Linked DNA regions of Homo sapiens. The protein of the gene in region 1 purifies or fractionates together with the protein of each later gene. This does not show direct contact. Each region holds a gene or a part of one and is shown in the gene's direction. Other genes may lie near its edges.

Region 1 (5,332 bases):
GGTGGTGGGCAAGGACAAGCCCACCTACGACGAGATCTTCTACACGCTGTCCCCTGTCAACGGCAAGATCACGGGCGCCAACGCCAAGAAGGAGATGGTGAAGTCCAAGCTCCCCAACACCGTGCTAGGGAAGATCTGGAAGCTGGCCGACGTGGACAAGGACGGGCTGCTGGACGACGAGGAGTTCGCGCTGGCCAACCACCTCATCAAGGTCAAGCTGGAGGGCCACGAGCTGCCCGCCGACCTGCCCCCGCACCTGGTGCCGCCCTCCAAGCGCAGACATGAGTGATGGCGCCCGGCCCCGCACCTGCCATTTGCACGCCCGGCCGGGAGGCAGAGACGGGGGGAGGGGAAGCCTCACCATTTCTCAAGGTCCATAAAGACTGAGCGGATGTTTCCTCGCCTCTCGAAAAGGAAAACCACCATCTTTCTTTTAAGGCTGTTCCTGGGCCTGGCGGGGGAGGCAGGGGTGAGAGGATGGAATTGTGTGCACAAGAACTGTGGCTATTTTAATATATAACGTTAGAGGCTGCGTTCTTTGTCGCCGCCTCCCCTGTGTGCCAGCCCTGTGTGCACGGCCTCTGCCCCCCGGCCTTTGCTGTGGCTGGAGCTGGACAGTGCAGCGACTGCGACCGTGGGGGAGCCAGGTCGCCCTTTTGGCAGCTGCTAGGCTGAGGCTGCATGGACAGGAACACCAGGCACCCTCCGTGTGCTTCTGAGCTGAGGTTGCTTCACGGGACCGTGGCTTCCTTCCTCACCTGGCTCTGCCTCCCCCGTGCTCTCGGGCGAAGTGGGTTCTTGTGCCTTCCCCTCCCGGGCCCAGGCTCCCCGTGCGCGGGCCCTGCCCTTTCCTCCCGCGCCCCACCGGCTCCGACGCGCAACCCCGCTCAGCAGTCACAGAAGCAGGGCCCAGCCACCTTGGTCTTTTTTTGGGAGTTCAGGGGAGTAGGAGAATGTCTTCCAGAAAAATACATAAGCTAGTTTCTGTTCTGTAAAGTGATATCTTTCATACTTGACCAAAGTTCCCAATAACTTCCCAACCACTGTTCAAAAGCTGTGATTTTTGTCTCCCCTTCCCACCCTCCAGCCAAGGAGCAGCCCTGCCCAGGGGGCATTAGGTGTGGGTACCCGGGGAGCACCCCGTTCCTGGACCCCAGTGTTGCATTTCCTGGCTGAGGAAGGGTGGTCATCCCAGCTCCTGCCCTACCCTCTCACTTAACTGGAGCTTTGGGACGCACCCTCCACAGTGGGAGGTGGTGGTGGGTGGCGGTGGCGGGGCCTCACGACAGCTTGGTGCTGGTAAGAGGAAGCCCGTGGTTCTGGCTAGGCTCTCATGTCCAGACAGCGGGGACCAGGGGAAAACCCAGCCCCTTCTGTAATCCCCCTTCATTTCCTACCTTCCTTCCTCCTCTGTTTAGCAAAGGAGGGCAGCTCACTTGGATGTCCTTACAACGCCCCTGGCCCCCAGGTTGAGCAATAAGAAACCAGAACCTTGCGGCCCAGTGGCCCGGGCCAGTTCAGGCCGCCTCCCCCTCCTCTGCCTGGGGCCATTGAGCCCAGCCTCCAGGGCCCGGGCGCGTTTGCAGGCCAGTGGCCACTGTCCGGGCTGTGATGGCACCAAGGCAGGTGGAGCACCAGGTACCACACAGCTGGGCTTCCCACCAGGCTTTCCCGCGGGGGTCTCAGGGAGCTTCTCCCCAGCGCTGCTCGGAGTCTGCAGGAACTGGCCTTGTTCTCCTTAGCCCGTCACTCCATACAGTATTAGGTGAGGATGGATGCGGGCGCTGTCCTTGCCGGGAAGTCACTGTTGAAGTTGCAGTGGCTTGTTCACACCTGTGGGAAGAGAAGTGAAGACTTTCTCCTTGCATTAAAAAGTCTGAACTGTGCGAAAGCTTCGGGTGCTTCCTTGTCTTTTCCAGGGGCAGCAGTCCTGGGCCATCCTCCCCTGGTGTCTGAGGGGGTGATGCCAGCAGGGACAGAGTGGCAAGGCAGCCGGGGCAAGGTGACCAACCCTGCCCAGTCCTGCTCTGCTGGGCAGTAGCTGCCCCCTCCTACTAAGAGGGCCAGGCCTGTAGGGAAAAGGGTTTCTGGGGTGATGCCCCCTTCCCTGAGCAAGGTGGGAGCTGAGCAGTTCACTTGGGGTGGGGAGGGGGGAAACAGTTGGGAGGATGTTGATAGCTGAGGCCTAGGCTGGCACCCCTCAGCCACAGACGGATGAGTGGGCACCTGCAGGCCCTCGGCACTGGGTGGCATCAAGTAAACAAGGGTTTCTGGGCTTTGGAGCCAGACTGGCTCCTTGCTAGCCCCAAGGACGGTTTAAGTACAGGGAAGCCGGGCCTCTGAAGACAAAGCAGATAGCCTGTGACAAACATGCAACTAAGGGTGGGGCCAGTCAGGCCCAGGTGATGTCACAGATGGGGGACTGTTTATACCAGCAGAGGGAAGGGTGACTGATTAGTGACCCTTCATAAAAGGGTGCAGACTTGAGGTGCCATGGGTAGAGGCTGCTCCAGCCCCTCTGGCAGAAGGCAGGACAGAAACAAGTTCCTGAGGGTTTCAGGGACCCAGTTGTGTGCTCCGAGCCTAGCTGGTGTGGTGGTGTCTGGTCCTATGACCAGCACTTGAGGTGCCAGTGGATGCTTCAGTTGCTGCAGGGCTGGCCGGCCCTCCCTGCGTCACTCAGCTGCCACCTGTGGGCATTCACCCTGTGCCAGGTGGAGCTGCGCTGTCACGATCTGAGGAAGTTCATGTTCCCCCATTTCACAGAGGGAGAGTCCGAGACTGAGGACTGCCGAAATAACAAAGGTGGTAGAAGCAGATGCAAACCAGGCCGTCCAACTCCAGCGTGCTTTCCATCAGGTTACTAATCCAAAGCACACACTAAGAGGAAAAAACGGTAGATCCCCCCAACCCCACCCTTAGACTGCAGCTGTACTCAGGGCTGAGAGACCCACATTAAAGGTTAAATGCTGTCACTCCAGCCTGGGGTCCTGAAAGCTTGGGGCAGGGGTCACCCAAGGGAGGTGGAGCATTTTTGTTCAAGCTGTGAGCACATTAGAGAAGGCACAGAACTTAGCAGTGCCCCTGAACTAGGAGGAAGGGAAGTGCTGCCTGGCCGCCCGCTCTCCTTCCCGGAGCACTCCACCTGCAGGGCTCTGTGTGGCCACAGAGGGGCTGTGAACCCCCTGGGGCTGCCCCAGGAAGCGCCTGCTGATCTGAGGCTTGAAAGGGGCTGAGGGCAGGTGTCTGCCCCAGAGTTCATAGCCCTGGTTTCGGTTCTACAGGTTGGGGATCATCTTTGGGCTCCGACCGGGGTTCAGGGAGGACCAGAGGATGTGGTCAGAGATGTGGCCGCCCACCTAGAGGGCTAGTCCCAGCCCTCGCCTCCTCCCTAGATCCATAGCTGGCCATGACCCTGGGGAAGAAGCCTCCTCTTCAGAGGCTGGCCTGGGGCAAAGGAGGGGCATTGCCACCCAGCTACCAGAGCCCGTGGACTGAGGCCTTCAGGGCAATCTGTCGCCCACGCAGCACCTCACAGCCCAGGACCCAAGAGGCAAAGGGCCCGCCCACTGCCTCTGGCCATGCACAGCTGTTTTCTATGTTGCAGTTCCTTGTAAGATCTCATTCAGAATAAACATTTCTGGCTGGGTTTGGTTCACACCTATAATCCCAGCACTTTGGGAGACCAAGGTTGGGGGTGAGGTGGGGTCGTGTGAGGCCGGGAGTTCAAGACCAGCCTGGGCAACATAGTGAGACCCGCCCCCCCCCCCGCCCCCACACCATCTCTACCAAAACAAAAATTAGCCAAGAGTGGTGATGGGTGTCTGTGGGTAGTCCCAGCTACTTGAGAGGCTGAGGTGGAAGGTTCACTTGAGCCTGGGAGTTTGAGGCTGCAGTGAGCTATGATGGCATCACTGTACTCCAGCCTGGGCAACACAGTGAGACACTGTCTCTATTTAAAAAAAATTTTTTTTAAATAAACATTTCTTCTCCTTAGAAAAGAAGTTAACCACAAATCCAGTCAGTGCCCTGTTCTTATCTCAAATGGGTGTTCTAGAAGAATAGACCAGTAAAAAATAAATAATGGCCGGGTACGGTGGCTCACATCTGTAATCTCAGCAATTTGAGAGGCCGAGGAGAGTGGATCACATAAGGTCAGGAGTTTGAGACCAGCCTGGCCAATACGGTGAAACCCTGTCTCTACTAAAAATACAAAAATTAGCCAGATGTGCTGGCTCTCGCCTATAATGCCAGCTACTTGGGAGGCCAAGGCACAAGAATCGCTTGAACCCAGGAGGCAGAGTTTGCAGTGAGCCAAGATCGCACCATCGCACTGCAGCCTGGGCGTCAGAGCAAGACTACGTCTCAAAAATAAATACATAAAATAAATCAAATGGGCTAGTCATAGGACTTGCCCGGCCACGGCCAGCAAGGTGGTGAGAGTTGGGAGGTGAGAACATCCGGCCACCACTCCTGTGTTAAAAGCGCACCAGGTCTGGCAGCACGTGGAGGGCAGCCTTGGGGAGACCGCCCTGAGTTCAACTCCCAGCTCTGCCACTCTAGCCAGATCTCTTCCCCCACTGAGGCCATTTCCTCAAGCCTTAATTCAGGAACAGATGTGGCCCACAGAGGCAGAGCCCGAGGACACCCACCTTGAGCGGCCTTTGCCAAGCACCCCAAGGAGGTTAGTCGGGTGGGGTGCAGGGAGCAGGGCACCTCACCCAATACCCAGAACAAAACAGGCCAGCCCCTCCCTTCCCTGAAGCAGCTCCCAGACTCAGTGGCGCCTGTAGGCTAGTGAGGTGGTGGCCAAGTGGGCTCGGGCCTGGCTTCCTGTGCACCCAGAGGGACTGATAATTGTAAAACCACATGGGGCTGCAGCCGCTGCAGAGCGTGGGAGCCCCTATGGCTTGTTGGAACACTGCAGGGAAGGTTTTTGGAAGAAAAACCAGGATGATGAAACCACCATATGTCCACCCATTTGGAGCTTTGGACTTTTCATAGGACACGCCCCTGGTGCTGGGCAGATGGGGTTGGGGAGGGGGCTGCCAGGACTAGCTGGGGGACTGGGGGGTCCACACCCCTAGCATTTGCATCAGCTCCTTCCCAAAGCCATCCCAACAGACGCACCTTCAAATAAGAGCCAGGCATCTGAGGCTCAAGGGTGGGCTTAGGGAGCTCCCCGGCTCCAATCACATTGCCGCCCGTGCTCCTTCAGAGAAAGGTTGGGACGGCCATTGGTGGCCATACTGGGAAGCTCATTTGTCTCTCACACCTGAACAGGTGCAGTTCTCCATTATACACAAAAAGACAGCGTCCAGAGAGTGAGGAA
Region 2 (8,852 bases), on another chromosome or scaffold:
TTCTCAATAACTGCTTCTTGAAGAGACTTCAACCAGCGCTCCTGTTTTCATAACCCGCTTTCCTGCCCCCACTCCTGTAAGTGCGCAAGGTCACTAAGGCCCGAACCTTTGGGTGATTCCGTAACAGTGTACACTCGGTCACCTTCCAGTATTTCCATGATGTCTTAGCATTTGTTTTTCTCTCATGCTGTTAGGCACTGATCATTCATCAGCTTTCTGGCTTCTGAAACCTTGTTGCTGTCATCCTCTTCTTGTTTCCTTTGTCCTTGTGGGATTATGCTTTAAAAAAAAAAAAAAAAAAGAAGATCTCTGCTTTTGTTGTAGTAGATTTCAGAAATATCATCATCAATACGCATCTTTAACTAGAACATAAGCATTTCATTTCCTTCTGGGGTGACTCCACTCCGGCTTCTCCATGACTTCCATCACTTTTTTTTTTTTTTTTTTTTTGAGGCTGAGTCTCACTCTGTCGCCCAGGCTGGAGTGCACTGGCACAGTCTTGGCTCACTACAACCTCTGCCTCCTGAGTTCGAGCGATTCTCCTGCCCTGGCCTCGTAAGTAGCTGGGACTGCAGGCGCCCGCCACCACACCCGGCTAATTTTTGTATTTTTAGTAGAGAGGGGGTCTTGCCATGTTGGCCAGGCTAATCTTGAACTCCTGATCTCAGGTGATCCGCCCGCCTCAGCCTCCCAAAGTACTGGGATGACAGGTGTGAGCCACCACGCCCGGCCCGACTTCCGACACTTTTAACTCCTGTTATCTGTTATCTTTTCAAACACCTTGCTTGTCACCAGATTGTGTCAACCATCTCACATTCCCCAGTAGTTTACTTTGACTATTTGGGACCCTGATTTAAATCATTATTTGTGTGTGTGTGTGTGTGTGTGTGTGTGTGTGTGTGTGTATTTTTTGAGACAGGGTCTCGCTCTTTCCACGTTGGAGTGCAGTGGTGCAATCCTAGCTCAGTGCACCCTCAAACTCCTGGGCTCCCACCTTAGCCTGCCAAGTTGCTGGAATTATAGATGCAAGCCACTGCACCCAGCTCATATTTTAAATGAAATAAATAGTACTGAAAGAAAGTAATGTCAAAAAAAAGTTACTTTTTTACAGAAAGAGATTTACTCACCAGGTAGGCCTCAAACGATTAAACCAAGTTGTTTTAAAACAAAATTATAAAATAAATAAAAGACCCAGTGGGGTTATGTAAGCCCATCATTTTGGGAAGTTGACAGTGGTATTTTTGTCCATTTAATATTAAATTTGAATAACATTTAGTAAATGTTTTTAGTTAGTAATTCTTAGTGACTGCAGTTATGTTCATTATTTTAGTCAACTTAATACATTTTATAATAACTCTTCCAAGTGTATTATTTGACTAATGCAATTGGCTGGCACACGTTGAAGACATCAGAGGTTGCACAATGAGACCAGAGTTAAGTGGTGAAAAATTCAGAAGTACATTTGTATCTGACCCTGAAATGTCTTGGTAGTAGAAGCACTTGATGTTTTGGAAATTTTAAAAATTAACTTTTAGCAAAATAGTGTGAGCCACATTGGGAGTGCCAGTTCTAAGAGAGGGCACCTTGAGCTCTTTCTTCTCCTGCCATTTATCTAGGCCATGGACCTTGAAGGTCTTTTCTGCTCCAGTGTATCTAAAGAATAAGATCCACATCCTTCAGTAGCAGCAGCTCATTAAAGCGGCAAGTTTCCTAGGGGGAAATAAGTCAGCATCTGAGGGCTGTGAGGGGAAATAGTTTGAGCAGGACTAAAGAAGCAATGCTAGGTCTTAGGTATTAAGAAAGAGAGCAGAGCCTTTTTCTTCTTCTCCTTTTTGTTTAAGTAACTTCTAAAATCAAAATATACCATTCATATAGAAAAACATGCTGATCATAAGCACAAGCAGGCACCTCACTGAATTTTCACAAAATGACCACACCTGTGTAACCAGCACCCAAATCAACAGCAAGCAGAGAGCACCTAGAAGCCACCCTCACGCGCCTCAGCCTCTGCCATGACTCCTCCCACCAGGGGTAGCTCTACCTGGGTTTGAACTGTATGTAATACAGTCTTGTGTCTGGCTTTTTTTTCTGAACATCAGCTTTTGGCGAGGCTCCGTGGCTCATGCCTATAATCCCAGCACTTAGGAGGCCAAGGCAGGAGGATCGCTTCAGGCCAAGAGTTTGGGACCAGCCTGGATAATATAGTGAGACCCTGTCTCTACAAAAAATTTAAAAATTAGCCAGACATGGTGGCACACACCTGCAGTCCCAGCTACTCAGGAGACTGAAGTGAGACCCTGTCTAAAAAAAACTGATGTTCTGGGTTTTTTGTGGGGTGGGGATCTCACTTCATCACCCAGGTTGGAGTGCAGTGGTGCAATCTCGGCTCACTGCAACCTCTGCCTCCCTGGCTCAAGCAATCCTCTGACTTCAGCCTCCCGATGAGCTAGGAACACAGGTGTGTGCCACCACACCTGGCTAATTTTTTCTATTTTTGGTAGAGACAGGGTTTTGCCATGTTGCCTAGGGTGGTCTCGAACTTATGAGCTCAGGCGATCCGCCCGCCTTGGCCTCCCAAAGTGCTGGGATTACAGGTGTGAGCCACTGCACCCAGCTAACATCAGCTTTTGAATCCTGTTTCAGTGTCCTGGTTCAGACACTGATTAAGACTGATTATAAGAAAATAGACAAGGTAAGCCTGCTTGTCTTATTTTGGTGCTATTCCAAAATGCAGATGGTCCTTGAGCAGGGACATTGGTTAAATGTTTGACTTTCGCAGAGCCTCCTAGTTACAAGCAGAATTAGACCAGATAGAGTATGAAATGTCAACAAAGCTAGTTATTAAGTGATATTGACTGCAGTGTACTTCAAAGCAAGGTAAGCCTTCCCATAGATAATTGGATAGATTATACGTACTAAACTGTTATTTTTTGCAAGTACTGAGCCTAGGTACTACAGAAATGAGATGGGTGGAACATACTTAACTATCTAACCTGGGCAAACATCTCATCTATGAATCGTATCCATTGGGTTACTGATTCCACAAATCTGGCTCATTTTAATGATGAGTCTCAGATAATTTTGTAGTTTGAAACACAGATTACTCCAGAATCACAGTCCTTTATGGCCCAAGTGCTATATCTGATGGAATAGTTATCTCTGAATGGAGGTTGGTGTTTATAGAACATTCTGTATATGGTAAAAGGAATTTAAGGAGATTTAAAAGAAAGAATGTTCTGTATAAACTGTAAGTGGAAATGTTTGTATTTCCCTTGGTAAGCAAATTGGGCTGTGTATATTCTTTGTTTGTGATCTAATCCAGCAAGGCCAATTACCAGAATAGAGCTTTAGGGCATAGCATGACTAATCAGCTTAATTAGGCCTGCTTTTCTAAACACCAGGCTTCCAGGGGTGGCCACTATGGACTCCTGCAAAAGAGTCTTTAATACATTTCCAGACTACCCAAGGGTACATTTTACCTTTGTTTTTTTTTTTTCAAGATAGTTTGATAAGACTCCAAAATGTGATGATGTAACTATTTCCCAGTGAATCCCTCCTTAATTTATAACCTGAGAGCCTACATTTTTTGTCCTTGCTTTTATCTGTTTTAGTTGCTCTTACTATCCTTAGTGGCATCATTGGTTAAGTTAACGTAAATATTCATCTCAACCTGTGTGGTATGTAAAAACTAGTTCCAATGCAGAACTCCAGGAATCTCAATTAAAGGAGCTTGTCACACACGTTCTCTGGCATCAGTGGTGTTTGAGAAATCTTTAGCATATGAACTTTGTCATAAATGACAGTGTATATTGTGTCACTGCTACTGTCCCAAAGTGTTCATGGTAGCACTAGAATAACAGATAAAAATGAAGTGTTTTCGAGCCAATGACTTGCTGTGATTCTATGGGTAAGCTCCTCTACCTCTCTGAGTCTCAGATTCTTGAGCTGGAAAAGGACAGTGACAACAATACCTGCCTTGTAGGGTTGTGACACTAACTAAGGTAACACGTGTAAAAGCATTTAACACAGTGCCTGCCACAGAATAGGCATTCAGCACATATCAGCTATTAGTAATACTTTTAGCCATCCCTTTTATTTCCTCTCTCAGGATGAAATTGATTCTGCAGTAAAGATGTTGGTGTCATTAAAAATGAGCTACAAAGCTGCCGCGGGGGAGGATTACAAGGCTGACTGTCCTCCAGGGAACCCAGCACCTACCAGTAATCATGGCCCAGATGCCACAGAAGCTGAAGAGGATTTTGTGGACCCATGGACAGTACAGACAAGCAGTGCAAAAGGCATAGACTACGATAAGCTCATTGGTACGTCCTCTGCTTTCTTCCCAGAAAAAGCTGCAACTTTTAGAAGTGGTCCCATTGAGTTGATTCCATTGATGTTTTTAAATTTTGAATTAATCATAAATTCAGTGAAGCTTCAATGCCAAGAAAAAATGGATACTAAAATCTTTTGGTTGTGCATTATATTCCCAAAGGATTATTTTAAAATAAAATAACAATATAAAATATATTTCAAAATAATGATCTATAGTAGACAGCTTAATAGAAGGTTTTCCCTTTTTTTGAGCACTTCAGAACTTGGGAAAGGTCTATTGAAATGGCCATTTATAACATTTAGTGGCTACAAGTCAATCATAGATTACTTAGGTTTCACCTCCAGTGATACTGACTATGGACCTAGAAGGCTGGAAGTCAGCTTAAGAGCAGTGACTTCTCACATCGGGCAAGTTCTTACTGTCATGCCCTTCCTTGAGGGCCTTCCTGCTCAGGAAAGACTGTTGCCATTCCATTGAAGTCTTTACTCTGAGATCATTGCTAATTATCAGAGAAGAAACAGAACTGAAATGTTTTCATCTAAGTCAAAGCCATTTTCCATGATTTCAGTATAGACTATCAATGAGGGAAAATTCACTTGAAGACCGACATTAATTCAGTTCAACAAATAAAGAATGTGAGAAATCATGGTTGTCAATGAATATAAATTTTACCTTAATAAACAAATATATATATATATACCTATTTATATATGTATATGTTTATATTTTGTTGTCAAAAGTTGCTAGCTGGACTGCATTCTGAATATGTTTCCCATCAGAACCCAGTCTCAGGCAAAACAGCATTTTGTGTTGTAATTTATTTCCTGTTTTGTTGGTTGTGTTGATCTCAGCTGTTGTTTTAATCCAAAGACCTTTTACTTCATGTTGGGGGTAAGGACCTTTAGCAGAAGGCCTAAAGAGGTTTGTGTTCATTAAGATTGTGCATGGATCACTCACTTTTCATCTTCATTTCAGTAATATCTGATCACTAAACCTCCTGCCACCTAAGAAAGTCATCTTTTCTTTTTTTCCAGTTCGGTTTGGAAGTAGTAAAATTGACAAAGAGCTAATAAACCGAATAGAGAGAGCCACCGGCCAAAGACCACACCACTTCCTGCGCAGAGGCATCTTCTTCTCACACAGGTCAGGGGCTCTTCACCACAGGCCTTCTCACCTGTCCTCTTCTTTTAGTTCAAAAAAATCGTAAGACACTCTCTTCATAAGCCACCTGGTACTGTGGGAAAAGTGATGGCCAGCTGTGGTAAGACTGAGATCCATCCTCTGTCCTGTCAGTAACCCACTGTGGGATCATGCTTGTCCATCACCCTCAGGCTCTTAGTTTTTTCATTTGTAGACTGCCCACCTCACAAGGTGGGAATCATATTAATAGCAGGTGAGATTCTTCCCAGATTACAGGCTGTAAAGAAATTATAAAATGTCATGAAAACAAAAGAGAATAATATGTCCAAGATCAGCATTTCCCACATGACAAACAGTAGGCTTCCTGAAATTCCAAACCCTCTTCCTCCTATTGTATTGACTTGCTCATAAACAATACCAACAGACAAACCAACAGAGAATGCATGGAACAGATTATCTGTACCTTAGGCCGTAAATTCCACGCAGATAACGTCAAGATATGGGCAGGTTCCAAAAGAGTTTCTGCCTCTCCCAACCTACAGTTATCTGGGCTGAGGCAGCCCCCTTTTTGAAGCTGTGTCCATGGAATTTATGATCTGATGTAGGGTTGTTCTGTTCTACTGGCACTTCACGCTTACAGGAGAACAACCCCAGGACAGAGCCCAGCAGTCTGCCCAAACACTTCAAATTCTACCTGCAAAGAACTCCAGGCCTTGCTCAACCCACTTTCTGGGTGGAATATAATAAAAAATTTTCCTTAATTCACATACTATAAAACTTATTTTTTTAAATGTACAGTTAAGTGGGTTTTAGTATATTCACAAGGTTGTGAGACCATCAAGACTATCTAATTCCAAAACATTTCATCACCCCAAAAGGAAACTTCTACCCATTAACCCATTTATGCCAGAAGTTGTAAAAATTTTTTGTGAAAAATCAGACCTTGGCAATCACCTTGAGCAGTAAGATATCAATAACTCCCACAAGTTTAGCATTCCAATTTTGGAACAGTAGGTAGGCATAAATGGGTTAACAGTCATCCCCCATTTCTCCCTCCCCACTGGCAACCATTAGTCTGCTTTCTCTATATCTAGATTTAGGCATTTTATATAAATGGGATCATGTAACATGTGGCCTTTTGTGTCTGGCTTCTTTTACTTGGCATAACATTTTCAAGGTTCCTCCATGTTGTAGCATGTATCCATACTGGATTCCTTTTTATTGCCAAATAATATTCCATTGAATGGATATACCTCACATTTTGTTTATTCATTCATTAGTTGATGGACGTTTGAGTTATTTTCACTTTTTGGTTATCAACAATGCTGCTCTGACCATTTGTATACAAGTTTTTGGGTGGATATATGTTTTCAATTCTCTTGGGCATATACCTCGAAATAGAATTAATGGCTTATATAGTAATTCCATGTTTAACTCTTTGAGGAACTGACAGACTTTTCTACAGCAACTGTATCATTTTACTTTCCCACCAGCAACATAGGAAGCTTCCCATTTCTCCACATCTTCACCCACTCTTGTTATTTTCCATGTTGTTGTGTTTTATAGCCATCCTAATAGGTGTGAAGTAGTATTTCATTGTGGTTTTGATTGTATTTCCCTAATGACAAGGATGTTGAGAATCTTTTCATGTGCTTATTAACAATTTTTATATCTTTAGAGAAATGTCTATTCAGATCCTTTGCCTACTTTTTAATTGGGTTGTCTTTTTATTGTTAGTTATAATAGTTCTTTCTATATTCTGGATACTAGTTTCTTATTCAAATATTACTTGCAAATATTTGCTCCCATTATATAGGTTGTCTCTTCACTCTACTGATAGTCCTTTGAAGTATGAAAGTTTTTAATTTTGATGAAGTCCAGTTTATTTTATCTTTGATTGATTGTGTTTTTGGTGTCATATCTGAGAAACCACTGACTAATCGAAGGTTGTGAAGATTTACACCTATGGTTTCTTCTCAGAGTTTTGTGGTTTTAGCTCTTACATTTCAGTTTCTGATCCTTTTTGAGTTAATTTTTGTATATTTGTGAGGTACAGCTCCAACTTCATTCTTTTGCTTGTGGGTATCCAATTGTCCCAGCACTGTTTTTTGAAAAGACTATTCTTGGCTGGGCGCAGTGGCTCATGTCTGTAATCCCAGCACTTTGGGAGGCCAAGGCAGGCGGATCACGAGGTCAGGAGATTGAGACCATCCTGGCTAACACGGTGAAACCCCATCTCTACTAAAAATACAAAAAATTAGCCAGGTGTGGTGATGGGCGCCTGTAGTCCCAGCTACTCGGGAGGCTGAGGCAGGAGAATGGCATGAACCCGGGAGGCGGAGCTTGCAGTGAGCCGAGATCGCGCCACTGCACTCCAGCCTGGGTGGCAGTGAGACTCCGTCTCAAAAAAAAATAAGAAAATGTGAGTACTCAAACATGGTTCTTTTTCAAGATTGTTTAGGTATTCTGGGCCCCTTGCATTTCCATATGAATTTCAGCTTTTCCATTTCTGCAAAAGCAGCAGCTAGGATTTTGATAGGGATTGCACTGAATCTGTAGATTCATTTGTGGAGTATTGCCATCTTAAAATATTAATTCATCTAATCCATGAACATGGGATGTCTTTTCACTTCTTTGATTTCTTTCATTGATGTTTTGTAATTTTCAGTGTATAGGTTTTGCACTTCTTTGCTTAGATTTATTCATTAGAATTTTATCTTTTTAATGCTATTCTAAATGGCATTTTCTTAATCTCATTTTGATTGTTCATTGCTACTATATAGAAATACAACTGATGGCCGGGCACGGTGGCTTACACCTGTAATCCCAACACTTTGGGAGGCCGAGGCGGGTGGATCACTTGAGGTCAGGAGTTCGAGACCAGCCTGACCAACATGGTGAAACCACATCTCTACTAAAAATACAAAATTGGGCAGGCATGGTGGTGGGCGCCTGTAATCCCAGCTACCCAAGAGGCTAAGGCAGGAGAATCACTTGAACCCAGGAGGCAGAGGTGGCAGTGACCCGAGATCGTGCCATTGCACTCCAGCCCGGGCAAAAAGAGCAAAACTCCCTCTCAAAAAAAAAAAAAATACAATTGATGTTTGTGTATTAATCTTATATCCTGAAATTTTGCTGAGTTTATTAGCGCTAATGCTTTTTTTCTTTTTGCAGATTCGATAGGATTTCCTACATATAGGATTGTATCTCCTATGATTAGAGACAGTTTTACTTCCTCCTTTCCAATTTGGATTTTTTTTTCGTTCCTAATTTCTCTGACTTCAACTTTCAATAGGATGTTGAATAGTAGTGGTGAAAGTGAGCATCCTTGTCTTATTCCTGATCTTAGGGGAAAAACTTTCAGTAAAGACTGAATATA

The links. The genes of interacting proteins can lie anywhere in the genome.
Region 2: the proteins of EHD1 (region 1) and WARS1 fractionate together in Homo sapiens (co-fractionation; 2 studies listed by BioGRID). This does not show direct contact.

The regions. Positions count from the first base shown.
Region 1 is NC_000011.10:64,849,290-64,854,621, reverse strand, and holds the end of EHD1 (EH domain-containing protein 1), read left to right. Parts: coding exon 1-289; 3' UTR 290-2,980; downstream 2,981-5,332. UniProt on the Homo sapiens protein: ATP- and membrane-binding protein that controls membrane reorganization/tubulation upon ATP hydrolysis. In vitro causes vesiculation of endocytic membranes. Acts in early endocytic membrane fusion and membrane trafficking of recycling endosomes.
Region 2 is NC_000014.9:100,357,178-100,366,029, reverse strand, and holds part of WARS1 (tryptophan--tRNA ligase, cytoplasmic), read left to right. Parts: intron 1-4,108; coding exon 4,109-4,322; intron 4,323-5,367; coding exon 5,368-5,476; intron 5,477-8,852. UniProt on the Homo sapiens protein: Catalyzes the attachment of tryptophan to tRNA(Trp) in a two-step reaction: tryptophan is first activated by ATP to form Trp-AMP and then transferred to the acceptor end of the tRNA(Trp).